Linked DNA regions of Homo sapiens. The protein of the gene in region 2 purifies or fractionates together with the protein of the main gene of each other region. This does not show direct contact. Each region holds a gene or a part of one and is shown on either strand. Other genes may lie near its edges. The genes, in order: BCL7A and SS18L1.

Region 1 (7,269 bases), on a different chromosome or scaffold from region 2:
GGGACTACAGGCGCATGCCACCATGCCGGGCTCATTTTTATATTTTTTGTAGAGACGGGGTTTCGTCTTCTTGCCTAGGGTGGTCTTGAACTCCTGGGCTCAAAAGATCCTCCTGCCTCAGCCTCCCAAAGTGCTGAGATTATAAGCATAAGCTACTGTGCCCAGCCCAGAATGTCTTTATTTTTAAAAGACACGTGCTGACATGTTTAGGGATGAAATGTCCTGAGATCTATAACTTACTTTCAAATGGTCCCAGAAAAAATACAAAGCAAAAGAAACCCAAAAGCCAACAATTGCCAAGTTCAGCAGGTGGATATATAGGACAGTATTATGCCATTCTTTTAATTTTTCTGTAGAGACTCAAAATAAACACACACAAATATTTGTGTACACATTCACACAATCACACACACACTCTCACACAATCACCCCATCATCTGTTCTTAATCCTTCAGATCATGTCACCCAAGCCCCCAGTGGCTCCCGTCTTACCATGAAAACCCAGGCCAGGCAGTGGCCTTACGAGCCCCCCACACCTGAGGCGCTGCCTGCTGTCTGACCCCGTATTATTATTAACTTTTTAAAATTTTTCTGAGACAGAGTCTTGCTCTATCGCCCAGACTGGAGTGCAATGGCACAATTTCGGCTCACTGCAACCTCCGCCTCCTGGGTTCAAGTGATTCTCTTGCCTCAGCCTCCTGACTAGCTGGAATTACAGGCACATGCCACCACACTCTGCTAATTTTTGTATTTTTAGTAGAGACAGGGTTTCACCGTGTTGGCCAGGCTGGTCTTGAACTCCTGACCTCAAGTGATCCGCCTGCCTCGGCCTCCCAAAGTGCTGGGATTACAGGCGTGAGCCACCGCGCCTGGTGCCCATCTTATTTTCCAGCTCCTCACTCACTCTTACCTCTGCCCACACTGCTCTCCTCCCAGATCCCCACATGGCTTGCTCAGTCGCCCAGTTTGAGCCTTGTCTTATTCAAAGGCCGCCCCGACCACCCCATTTAAAACTGCAACTCTCCAGGTCATTCAGCAAGACCCCCCACCCCTTTCCTACTTTATAATTCTCTGCCACACTTATCTTCCTAATACTAGGTTGTCTGATTTTTAAATACATTTAAAATTTATTAATATAATTATATTTTGAGCCAGGGTCTCACTCTGTCACCCAGGCTGGAGTTCAGTTGTGTGATCACGGCTCACTGCAGCCTCCAACTCCTGAGCTCAAGGGATACTCCCGCCTCAGCCTCTTGAGTAGCTGGGACCACAGGCACATGCCACCATGCCCAGCTCATCTTAAAGCATTTTTTTGTAGAGACAGGGTCTTGCTATGCTATCCAGGCTGGTCTCAAACTCTTGGCCTCAAGTGATCCTCCTGCTTCAGCCTTCCAAAGCATTAGGATTATAGGTGTGAGCCACCATGCCTGGCCAATTGTTTGATTTTTATTTATTTACTTATTATTGAGACAGGGTCTTATTGTCACCCAGGCTGGAGTGCGGAGGCATGATCATGGCTCACTGTAGTAGTCTTGACCTCCTGTGCTCAAGTGATCCTCCGACCTCGGCCTCCTGAGTAGCTGGATCACAGGTGTGTGCCACCACACTTGGCTATTTTTTTTTTTTTGGTAGAGATGAGGTCTTGCTATGTTGCCCAGGCTGGTCTTGAACTCCTAGGCTCAAGCAGTCCTCACACCTTGGCCTCCTAAAGTGCAGGGATTACAGGCATGAGCCACTGCACCTGGCCTGTCTGATTTTTTTAATTCCCCCACGAGACCATGTACTCCAGGTGTCACCTCTCTTTACTGTCTCCTTGCTGGGGCTGGCACATGACAGGGCCTCCTGGAACACCTAGCCACAGACTGCCTGAAGGCCGGTTACAGGGAGGCCGTCAGAGCCCCACCTCCAGAGGCCACATACCTTCAGCTCCTGGGTGCTCCTTCCCATCAGCCTGGGCCTCATCCACCTTGGCCTCGGTGCCGTCGCTGGGCACAGCCGAGTTGGGCTCTGGAGCGGGGCTGGAGTTGCTGCTGTTCTCCTGTTTGATGGGGGAGGCATCTGCGATGGAGCTCTGGTTGCTGTTATCGTCTGTAGGGGGTGGGAACAGAACCACAGGATGAAATCCCACAGCTGCCAAGGACGGGTAGGTCAGAGGGCTCAGCATCCCTGTGCCTCAATGCCCGGAACCCCATGGCAGCTCTCCCGGGGAGGGGTCTGGTTACCGTTTTTTTTTTTTTTGAGACGGATCTCGCTCTGTCAACCAGGCTGGAGGACCGTGGTGCAATCTTGGCTCACTGCCTCCACCTCCCGAGTAGCTGGGATTACAGGTACTTGCCACCACGCCTGGCTAATTTTGTATTTTTAGTAGAGATGGGGTTTCACCATGTTGGCCAGACCCGTCTCGAACTCCTGACCTCAGGTAATCCTCCTGCCTCGGCCTCCCAAAGTGGTGGGATTACAGGCGTTGAGCCACTGCACCCGGCCGTGTGGTAGGGGTCTGGATACTGGATACGCCTCCTCCTGGGACCCCTGAGCTCACTCCCGCCCCCTGACCCCCACCCACCCACCCACCCAAGCACCACAGCCATCCCATGTGTCCAGAGAGGCAAAGAATTCCGGCACTGGCCTGACCTTCCCCACACTGAGCCAACTGTACCCTGCGTCTGGAGGCAGCCAGCTGGGGATGGTGGCCTAACATATTTAAAATCCTGGGGGGACATTTGAGGCCTCATTCTGGGTGTAGAAACCAGACGTCTTGTGTGTCTGGCAGGGAAGCGATACAGAAGACACGGCATGGTCCGTGAGGCGGGATTGCCAAGGCGTTCTGTCTGACTGCATCCAGCCTGGAGCTGAGTTCCACTTGATAGGAAATAAAAGGGAGAGAGAGACAGCGGGAGGTGGCATATTCCACGGGACACGTGGTCCACTCCCTTAAAGTCAGTATCATATTTAAAAAAAAAAAAAAGTTGGGGGAGGGGAGATGACTTTAGAATAAAGAAAGCTAGGAGACTCGACTAAATATGATGTATGGAAATGATTTGGATCCTGTTTCAAACGTGCCAGCTGTAACACTTTGGAACAATTGGGGAATTTGAATATGGTCTGGGTTTTAAAAGCTATTAAGGAACTGTTGTTAATTTAGTTAGAAGTGATCATGGGACAGTGGGTATGTAGAAACGTCATATTTTCAGCAATGCATGCTATGACGTTTAGGTGCAGACTTGAATGTCATGAGGCAGGGAAATTTACCAGAAAATACTTCAGTGCAGGCTGCCGGCCACTGTCAGGACTCCCTGAACTTTTACACTTTTTTTTTTTTTTTTTGAGATGGAGTCTTGCTCTGTCGCCCAAATTGGAGTGCAATGGCGCGATCTGGGCTCGCTGCAACCTCCACCTCCTGGGTTCAAGCAATACTCCTGCCTCAGCCTCCCAAGTAGATTACAGGCGCCTGCCACCATACCTGGCTGAGTTTTGTATTTTTTAGTAGAGACGGGTTTCTCCATGTTGGCCAGCCTGGTCTCGAACTCTTGGCCTCAGGTGATCTGCCCACCTCAGCCTACCAAAGTGCTGGGATTACAGGTGTGAGCCATCACACCCGGCCACTAGCTGTGTATTTTTTATATGTGAATTATATTTTAATTACAAAAATCTAACACATTGAAAAAATAGATGAGACAAATGTGGCACCGTGTTCATGAAAATCAAGGTGGAGTGTACAGGGGGATCGTATTCCTCTCTCTACTGTTCTTGACAACAAAACCCTTCACAATACAAAGAAGAAAGAGAAGGGGTAATTGGGCAATGGCATTTACAGTTGGGCTGGGGGCAGAGCTGGGGCCCGGGCTGCACCTCCCCTTGTCCTGCACCCCCTTCTCAGGCACAGAGTCACTCTATTTATTTTTTTGAGATGGAGTCTGTCACCCAGGCTGGAGTGCGGTGGCGCGATCTCGGCTCACTATAATCTCCACCTCCTGGTTCAAGCGATTCTCATGCCTCAGCCTCCCAGGTAGCTGGGATTACAGGCATGCACCAACATGCCCAGTTAACTTTTGTTTTTATTATTTTTTAGTAGAGACGGGGTTTCGCCATGTTGGTCAGGCTTGCTCTTGAACTCCTGACCTCAGGTGATCTGCCCGCTTCAACCTCCCAAAGTGCTGGGATTACAGGAGTAAGCCACCACACCCAGCCATTTATGTATTTTTTATTTTTAGAGACAGGGTCTTGCTCTGTTGCCCAGGCTGGAGTACAGCAGCACAATCATAGCTCACTGCAGCCTCGAACTCCTAGGCTCAAGCCATCCTCCTGCCTCTGCCTCCTGAGTAGCTGGGGCCACAGGCATGTGCCACTGCATCTGGCTAATTTTTAAGTTTTTTGTAGAGATGGGGTCTCACTATGTTGCCCAGGCTGTCTTGGACCCCTGGGCTCAAGTGATCCTCCTGTCTTGGCCTCCCAAAGCACTGAGATCATAGGCCTGAGCCACTGTGCCCAACCTAGGAGAGTCGTTTTAAACAGCAGAGACCCAAGTGGAGGTTTCAAAACCAAAGCAGCCTTTCTGGGGGCCATGCTGCACCCGGGGCGATGGCCACTTTTGTAAACATGAGAAAGAGACAGAGACACCCCAACAGACCTGGGCACCTGCCACCATGCCAGGCACTGGGCAGAAGCATTTATGGACACCTCGTGGAATCCTCCCCACAACCCGTTGGAAAGGCACCGTTACCACCTTCACTTTCCGGAGGGGGAAACTGAGGCTGGGAGCAGCAGAGCCACTTGCCGGACCCATCTGCCCAACTCCCAGCCCCACGCCCCTCCTCTACCTCAACCTGCCGAGGAAGCACCAGGCAGTCAGGCGGCCCCACACGGGTAACCTGGATCTGATTTTAACTGTACTCTGGGGTGCTCGTTACACAAAAGCATCCTCTTGTGAATTCTGGGACTTAAAAAAAAAAAAGAAGGATGTGTGCTCCCCGATTTCTCCCTTGAGAAAAACTAGACTTCCTTCCTATGGCAAGCACACGCGCAAGAGGCTGGCCCCGTAGGTTCCTGAGGCTCTGTTAATGAATGACAATGAGCACTAATGTTTAACGTCTGGTCTAGCCTGGTAGCCTGGTAACAGCGTGACCCTGATACTTGGGCTAACTTCAGCTGAGTCTTGTGGACTAAAGGGCCCGGGGCACCGCCCTCTCCTTCATCCCCTGCTGTACCCATCCTCCCACTTGAAGCCTTCCAGAAAACTTGCCCGGCCCACACCTTTCCCTGACCTTCCCATTTACACACTCTGCAGTCTGACTGGCTTTCGGCTGCACGTGCACTAAAATGAAAATCAGAAAGTCAACAGGGCACCTGTGTCTGGGGACCTGGTTTGTTCAGCATCCTAGATTTTTCTGGAGAGTTTATCCAGGTCACAAATCTGGATCTTTTGGTTTTTTTTTTTTTTTTTTGGAGACACGGCCTCACTCTCTTGCCCAGGCTGGAGTGCAGTGGTGCAATCTTGGCTCACTGCAACCTCCCCTTCCCGATTCAAGGGATTTTCCTGCCTCAGCCTCCCGAGTAGCTGGGATTACAGGTGCCCACCACCATGCCCGGCTAATTTTTGTATTTTTAGTAGAGATGGGGTTTCACCATTGTTTGGCCAGGCTGCTCTCCAACTCCTGACCTTAAACGATCCTCACAACTTGGCCTCCCAAAGTCCTAGGATTATGGGTGTGAGCCACCACGGCCAGCCACAAACCTGGATTCTGTCTTCAAAGAACCAACCTCAAATGCCATCAATGGCACTGGAAGTTATGAACTTGCTAACCATGCATGTTACTTCACCTCACTGGGCCTTAGTTTCTCCATCTGTAAAATGCGGTTGGTTATTAGACTCAAATGAGGCAATGATGTAACGGGCTTAGCACAATACTTGGCACATTGTGACGGTTTCATAAATGTGAGCTGTTAACATGCCAAGGTTTTTAAAATTTTTATTATAGGCTGGGCACAGTGGATCATGCCTATACTCCCAGCACTTTGGGAGGTTGAGGGAGGAGGATTGCTTGAACTCAGGAGTTTGGAAACAGCCTGGGCAACATAGCAAGACCCTGTCTCTATTTTTGAATACAGTAAAATAATTTTTTTTTTTTATGGAGTCTTGCTCTGTCGCCCAGGCTGGAATGCAGTGGCATGATCTCAGCTCACTGCAACCTTTGCCTCCAGGTTCAAGTGATTCTCCTGCCTCAGCCTCCCAAGTAGCTGGGATTACAGGCGTGTGCCACCACACCCAATAATTTTTGTATTTTTAGTAGAGATGGGATTTTACCATAGAGACCAGGCTGGTCTCCAACTCCTGACTTCAAATGATCCTCCCATCTCGGCCTCCTAAAGTGCTGGGATGACAGGCATGAGCCACCACACCTGGCCCAAAATAAAATATTTACTATAATTATATTATATATTATATTATATAATATATATAATATATATATTATATATATATATATATTTAAGAGATGGGGTCTTGCTCTGTTGCCCAGAGTGGAATGCAGTGGTGCAATTACTGTTCACTGCAGCCTCCAACTCCCAGGTTCAAATGATCCTCAGCCTCCAGAGTAGCTGTGACTATAGGTGCGCATCACCACAACCTGCTAATTTAAATTTATTATTATTATTATTTTTTTTTTTAATCTATTTTTTTTTAGACTGAGTCTTGCTCTGTCGCCCAGGCTGTAGTGCAGTGGCGTGATCTTGGCTCACTGAAAGCTCCACCTCCCAGGTTCACGCCATTCTCTTGCCTCAGCCTCCCGAGTAGCTGGGACTACAGGCACCAGCCACCACGCCTGGCTAATTTTTTTGTATTTTTAGTAGAGATGGGGTTTCACCGTGTTAGCCAGGATGGTCTCGATCTCCCAACCTCATGATCTGCCCGCCTTGGCCTCCCAGAATGCTGGGACTATAGATACGAACCACCTATTGTTTTTTTTGTAGAGATGAGGTCTCCCTGTGTTGCCCAGGCTGGTCTCAAACTCCTGGGCTCAAGTGATCCTCCTAACTCGGCCTCCCAAAGTGCTGGGATTACAGGTGTGAGCCACTGTGCTTGGTCCCATGCCAAGGTTTTTAAGAGATTATTTAATTTAATCCTCACAGTGAGTTTATGAAGTAGGCATTACCATCCCCATTCTACAGATTAAAACTAAACAAACCCCAAAGCTAGAGGTTAAACAAATAGCCCAAGATCACACAGCCAGGGGAAGGTGCAGGGAGAGTTAGGATGTGAACCCAGGTGGGGTC
Region 2 (7,269 bases):
CTGCACTCCAGCCTAGGTGATAGGGCAAGACCCTGTCTCTTTAAAAAAAAAAAAAAAGTAGCTACATCAGACACTAAAAGGCTGAGCAGCACATCCTGCGTTTGTTTTTGGGACAAAGTGTGGCAGCCTTGGGCAGACGCATGTGGACACCTCGCCATGGACAAGGCTGAACCCTGTGCTCCAGCTGGAAGGGACAGGGCCAGGCCCATGATGGCAGAGATCCTGCTGACTCCCAGGGCTTACGGAGGCACCACTGCAGCCAATATGCCAGAAGATAGCCTCTGGGTGCTGGCCACAGGGTGGCTTTTGTTTTGAGACAGGGTCTGGCTCGGTCACCCAGGCTGGAGTGCTGTAGTGCAATCTCAACTCACTGCAACCTCTGCCTCTGGGTTCAAGCGATTCTCCCACCTCAGCCTCCTGAGTAGCTGGGATTACAGGTACCCGCCACCACGCCCGGCATTTTTTTTTTTTTTTTCGGGAGAGAAAGGGTTTTGCCATGTTGCCCATGCTGGCCTCAAACTCCTGAGCTCGGCCGGGCGCGGTGGCTCACGCCTGTAATCCCAGCACTTTGGGAGGCTGAGGCAGGTGGATCATGAGGTCAGGGGTTCGAGACCAGACTGACCAACATGATGAAACCCCATCTCTACTGAAAATACAAAAATTAGCTGGGTGTGGTGGCGGGGCCTGTAATCCGAGCTACTCAAGAGGCTGAGGCAGGAGAATTGCTTGAACCTGGGAGGCGGAGGTGGCAGTGAGCCAAGATCATACCACTGCACTCCAGCCTCGGCGACAGAGTGAGACTCCGTCTCAAAAAAAAAAAAAAAAAAAAACAAACAAACTCCTGAGCTCAAGCAATCCTCCTCCACTGGCCTCCCAAAGTGCTGGGATTACAGGCGTAAGCCACCATGCCTGGCCATTTCTTTTTTTTATTTCTTTTTATTTTTTTTGAGACAAAGTTTCACTCTTGTTGCCCAGGCTGGAGTGCAATGGCATGATCTCAGCTCACTGCAACCTACACCTCCCGGGTTCAAGCAATTCTCCTGCCTCAGCCTCTTGAGTAGCTCAGATTACAGGCACATGCCACCACGTCCAACTAATTTTTGTATTTTTAGTAGAGACGGGGTTTCACCGTGTTGGCCAGGCTGGTCTCAAACTCCTGACCTCAGGTGATCCACCCACCTCAGCTTCCTAAAGTGCTGGGATTATAGGCGTGAGCCACAACACCTAGGCTCTTTCTTCTTTTAAACTTTCATTATGTATTCATGTACTTTTTGTTTCCCCCAGGTTTACAAAGGTGTAACTGACATTTCAACGTTGCAGGCATTCGTAGCGCACACCGTGATGTTTCTATATGTGCCTACACTTGCGTGCTTTATTTCTTCACAGCAGGCTGAGATGTGTAAGCTCAGAAGCAAAACCTTTACACATCCAATTCTTTAAGAAGTAACCCAAACAAGGAAATCTGTAGCCGTTTAGTGCCTGCCTGCTTTGTGTACCTGGTGAAGCCTCACCAACACTGTTACCTCTTGATAAATTGCAGCCCTGCAGTGGGAAGGCCTCAGCCACTGCTGCCTGCCGGTCAGCGTCAGCAGACACGAGGCCCCTCTCCCCAGGGACTGCAGGCCCGCCTTCCCTCCCGGACGAGGTTGCGCAATCCCGCAGGCGATCATCAGCTCTTCTCTGGGGGCCATCTTTATCCCGGGGTGGGACTGGAACGGGCTGTGTGTACCTCTTCCCAACTCCACATTCTGGGATGTTCTGTTGGGGTTTCAGGGCAGCCAGGGTGGGGGCACAGACACCACAGAAAGGGGCAAGTCCACCCGACACGCAGCCCCCAGCGCAGCACTGCCCAGGACCGCCATGAAGGGCGGCAAGCCCCCAGCCACAGATGTGCGTTTCCTGGCCTGCAGGTGTCTGAAGAAACGCGAGGCCACACCCAGCGCAGCCACTGCTGGCCTCCAGCTGAGGAAGCTCTGAGAGTGGCTCGCAGGCCCCACGATCCCTGGCCAGACCCAATAACAGAGTCTGTGTCCCCAACCCCAGCATGGCCGGCTGAATCCTTCCTGTCGCAGGCCCCACGCTCCCTGGCTGGACCCAATAACCAAGTCTGTGCCCCCAACCCCAGCATGGCCGGCTGAATCCTTTCCTGTCTCACGAACACACCCATAAGGCAAGCGGGGCTCCCGACACAGCCTGAATTTCCAGCTTCCAGAACACACTGTCTCTCCTCCCACGCGCTGTGCTGTGATTTAAGGGACTCACTGAAGGCAGGCACCGCGTGCTCCTAAGGGTGCAGCGTCTTAACTCTGCTGCGTGTGGCGCTTACGCTCGAGCCCAGCACGCAGCCGTGCTCCTTACCCCCCTCATAGTAGTGCTGCGTGGACTCCTCGAAGGACCGGTCGTAGCTCTGCTCCGTGTAGGATGACTGCTGGTAGGCGTAATCGCCATGGCCTGTGCGAAACGGAGACGGCGACAGTCAGCGGAGGCTGTGCACTGCACAGGTCCCGGAGGAGGCAACTGAGACCCAGGCTGGGGAGATGTTGTCTGGCCAGGGAGGCAACAAGAGCCGGCAGGACCCGTGTTCCCCAAAACCATGCCCCAACCTCCTGAGCCTCGGCCTCCCCACTGAAATGCAGACATCAATGCCTCCTTCTCGGGGCGACTGTGAAGCTACCTGGGGATTTATGCAGAGGATCAGCGCTTTCAGTGCCTGCCACACAGCCATGCTAGTGACCCGACTGCCTTCTCCCCGCCACCGCTAGCTCCTGGGAGGACGCAGGCAGGGGTGTCCAACCCTTACCGAGGCCTTCGCTGCATGTGACCATCACGTGGCCAGGGTGGCTTGCCCTGCTGCCACCTGCCCACCTGTCTGTGCACCTGCCCCTTGCTGGCTGAGGCCAGCTCCCTGCCTGGATGCCTCCCAGGGATCAATCCAGCCTTTAAGACCACTTTATTTTATTGTTATTTTTACTTTATTTAGAGACAGGATCCTGCTCTGTCACCAAGGCTGGAGTGTGGTGGTGCGATCATGGCTCAATGCAGCTTCAACCTCCTGGGCTGAAGCGATCCTCCTGCCTCAGCCTCCCAAAGTGCCGGAATGACAGGTGTGAACCGCTGTTTTCAGCCAAGACCACTTTCAGTATCCCTTCCACAAGCCCTGGGACTATGCAAAGACTGAAAGGTGACGACGGTAAAATACTCTGCAGAGATGAGAAGGTGCAGGAGGAGAGGTGCTGCAGGTGGAGCCGTCACCTTCAGGGCATTCTCTGTGAAGCTGGGAGGCGCCTTCTTGAACATTTCCACCTATCTACAGCTAGGAGCTACAATTATCCGCCTCCAACTCCCACAGCCTTTCAGGAAGTAGAGGCAAGGCCGCGTGGAGGCCAGTGCAGCGGTGTGTGCCACAGCTTCTCTCTGCAGAGGCCAGGCACCACTGCCAGCCCAGCTCACCCCATCCCCTACCTTGCTCCTGCAGGGCGTCTGGCCACTCTGCCTGTAGCCCAGGCCTGAGCTGGAATGACTGAGGACACACTGCAGTGGCCACACCCTCCTTGCCCTCCTTGCCCTCCTTGCCCCTGCAGCTGCTCTGCGTTCCTGGGCGGGGTCAGGCCGCCGCCAGTGCTCACCGTCGGGGTAGTACTGCTGGCCCATGGGCTCCGCGGCGCCCTGGCTGTGGCTGTACTGCTCGCCATAGTACTCCTCCTGGCCCAGGTACTGCTGGGAAGAGCCTGCGGGGGAACCACATTCAGCGCCAGTGCGGGCCGCGCCCTCCTCCCTCAGAGGACCTGCTCGCTCACTGGGGAAGCCAAGGCCTTGCTGAATGGCCTCACCCACCCGAGGAGAACACCCCACGCTGTCATCGTATCCAACTTATGTTTTGTATTTTTAGTACAGAGTTTCACCATGTTGGCCAGGCTGGTCTTGAGCACCTGGCCTCAGGTGATCCGCCCACCTCGGCCTCCCAAAGTGCTCGGACTACAGGCATGAGCCCGGCCTGTGACACTCTTAATGACAACTGCCGCCCCTGCCCCCAACACTGACTCCTCGGGGACAGCAGACCCTCCACGGGCCACACCCTGGCCCTCACCCCCAGGGTCCACACTCAATGTTAACACCAAGGCGCCAAGCCTCACTCCCCCAGGCTCCCCGCCTCACTCCCCCAGGCTCCCCGAAGAGAAGCACACACAGCCTGGCACTTCACGACCCGCGGCGGTCAGCTGTGCCCGCGACCTGGCCCGGCCGGGCGTTACCTTGCTGGGAGGGCCGGTAGGGCGCCATGGGCCGCTGCCCCATCATGCTGCTCCCCTGGCTGCCCTGCCCCATCATGGCGATGGACGACTGGCCCTGGTAGTGCTGGCTGCCGCCCTGCGCCGAGCTGTAGTGCGACGTGGCCGCCTGCTGCTGCATCATGGAGACTGAACGACAGGACAGAGGCCCCACATCACCCCGGGAAGCCTCCCGCCCTCCCTCCCACACCCAACTACCTCCTGCGCCCGGGCGGGTTCCTCGTTATTTTCCTGTGCTCCCCACGAGGACAGCGTCCTCCACCGCAAGGCACGCCTCCCCTACGTGGCCTGCACTGACGCCCTGCAAGCTCAGACCCGCTGCTTGCACCGACTCTACCCCACCTCTGAGAGCCCAGTGCTGTCTGTCCAGACCCAGGGCCAGTGGCCCCCACTCCCTGGGGCATTCCCTGAGACTCCATGGGAAACACCCCAGCCCCTCGCAAAGCTGGGGGACAGGAGGAGTTGATCGTGCACCCACTGGCGCCCATCCCTCCGGAAGCTCTCAGAGGCAGCGGCCAGCCCCGATTCACGGGCCCCTCCCCTCCAGCACCCAGCAGGAGGGCAGCTTCCCCGGGACCACATGTCCAACGTGCATGTGTCAAGGGTCTTGGAGGCAGGCCCAGGCCCCCCGGGGTTGCAGAGGCAGAGTAGGTACCTGGGTTGGACTGCATGTTGATGTTGGTCCGAGACACGTAGTTGCCGATGGTGCCTTGCCCCTGCATGGGGACGCCCTGCGAGGCGGGTCCCGCGTGGCTGTAGCCGGGCCCAGAGATGCTCATGGAGGTGGTGGGCAGCGTGTTAGGCGCCGTCTGCTGCATGGACACGTGGCTCGGCCCTGGCATGGGGAGCAGGGAGTGGTGTCAGGCACTGGGGAGCCAGGTCACCACTTCTGAAGGTGAAGACACCCCAATTTCCCTTCAAGTGACTTTGGGAAGAGTTGCTATCAACAGCACTATTAATGATTAAGTGACTAATAAATAAGTGGCCGGGAGCAGTGGCTCATGCCTGTAATCCCAGCACTTTGGGAGGCCGAGGTGGGTGGATCACCTGAAGTCAAGAGTTCGAAACCAGCCTGGACAACATGGTGAAACCCCGTCTCTACTAAAAATACAAAAAAATTAGCCAGGTGTGGTGGCACGTGCCTATAATCCCAGCTACTTGGGAGGCTGAGGCCGGAGAACTGCTTTAACCCGGGAGGCGGAGGTTGCAGTGGGCCAAGATCATGCCCATTGCACTCCAGCCTGGCCGACTAGAGCGAGACTCTGTCTCAAAAAAAAAAGAAAAGAAAACAAAGCAGCGTACATGCTAGCAAAGCACAGGATGAATCGTTTATTTGTTGTTATTTTGTTATTATTTTCTGAGACAGGGTCTGGCTCTGTCACCCAGGCTGCAGGGCAGTGGCATGAACAAGGCTCACTTCAGCCTCACCCTCCCAAGCTCAAGTGACCCTCTCTCCTCAGTCTCCCGAGTATTTAACAGTTTGGACTACAAGTGTGCACCATCACACCCGGCTAATATTTTTATTTTTTGTAAAGATGGGGCTTTGCCATATTGCCCAGGCTGGTCTCAAACTCCTGGCCTCAAGTAGTCTGCTGGTTTAGGCCTCACAAAGGGTTGGGATTAGAGATCTGAGCCACCACACCCGGCCTGTTATATTACTGTTAATGGTCTCCAAACGTTATCCATGCTTCTCAATCCAAAGACAGGAGCATTCCATTCCTATTACACAATCCACCTGGAACCCCGCAACTTGCATTTGAATTTGATGGAACGTGACAGTGTCAGAGAGAGTGGACAACTGGAGCAGGGGCTCAGCCCAGCCGCACGGCACGCTCGCTGCGGCCCTGAGCCTGGGCGATGGCAGCCGACCTGTGGCTACCCCAGGAGGAGTGGGTCCCATGCCCAGCCCTGTGAGGGGTGGGGTGCCCCACCATGGCAGCCGGCTGCCCAAGGGCTGCCTTGGTGGCCTCGTAGCCAGGAACGTCCTCCTCCCCCGCCGCACTCACCGTTGCCAATCTGGCCCTGCAGGAGGGAGGAGGGTGGCAGGCCCGTGCTGATGGCGTCACTCAGGCTGCCCTGAGAGTGCAGGCCCTGGCTGGAGCCGCTCTGAGTCAGGGCTCCAGGGCCCAGGTTCATGTTCTGCGTGGGCGGCTGCAGGCAACAGGAAGTTTTCAGGGAAAAACGGTTAATTTACGGAGAGCGACCTCCACAAGCCAGGCCAGGGATGAGAGGGCACCCGAGATTTGCCGCCACACATCATGGCCACCTGGTCAATGTTCGTAATCAGCAGCCATCGTCACAGCCAGGTGACCGCAGAGCACCAGGCCCAGATGGAGATGGCAGAGTGAGCATCTGGGTGAGCGTTCACAACCCTACTGAGTATCAAGTTCATCCACACGTGCCTGGGTGTGAAAAGCTGGACCTCCTCCTGGGACAGCAGGGAACCCCTTTCCCGGCCCACCAGGCTGAACGCACCCCGTCCCCCTCGGGCGCAGGTGACCAGCGCCTCTGTGCTCCCCAACCACGACCCCTCCGTGCCAAGAGCTTCGGCAGAGGTGGGATCCCTCTCCTGTTTCCCGTGCTCCTGCTGCATGTGCCCCTTCCCCGACTACCCCCACCCCACACCCGCCTCGGATCACACCGCACAGAAGGGAGTGAGTGTGAAGTGGCCCTCAGCACTCTCCCAGATCAAGGTCAACCAGCAGCTCTGGAGGTCTGCACACACATGCTGTCTACACCTGGCCAAGAAAAGGAAATTTCCACCAGGACCTGTGGGTGTCTGCAGGGTGAAGAAGTGCAATTTGACAGGTCAATGGAGGTGGGTTTAACATTTTTACTCGCAAGACACATCCTGGCATTTATGTCATCACTTGCCGAGGACTAAGGGTCACTAGGAGATACGTCATTCCCGGCGACATGTCTGTCCCGGAACCCCGTCAGCAGGACAGAGGCTGCAGCAGCACGACCTCGTCTTCACTGTGAC

The links.
Region 1: the proteins of SS18L1 (region 2) and BCL7A purify together in Homo sapiens (affinity purification with mass spectrometry; 2 studies listed by BioGRID and IntAct, with this or other methods). This does not show direct contact.

The regions. Positions count from the first base shown.
Region 1 is NC_000012.12:122,038,705-122,045,973, reverse strand, and holds part of BCL7A (B-cell CLL/lymphoma 7 protein family member A), read right to left. Parts: intron 2,089-7,269; coding exon 1,921-2,088; intron 1-1,920.
Region 2 is NC_000020.11:62,160,604-62,167,872, reverse strand, and holds part of SS18L1 (calcium-responsive transactivator), read right to left. Parts: exon of another isoform or gene 6,438-7,269; coding exon 6,293-6,437; intron 5,122-6,292; coding exon 4,942-5,121; intron 4,416-4,941; coding exon 4,251-4,415; intron 3,729-4,250; coding exon 3,627-3,728; intron 2,452-3,626; coding exon 2,359-2,451; intron 1-2,358. UniProt on the Homo sapiens protein: Transcriptional activator which is required for calcium-dependent dendritic growth and branching in cortical neurons. Recruits CREB-binding protein (CREBBP) to nuclear bodies.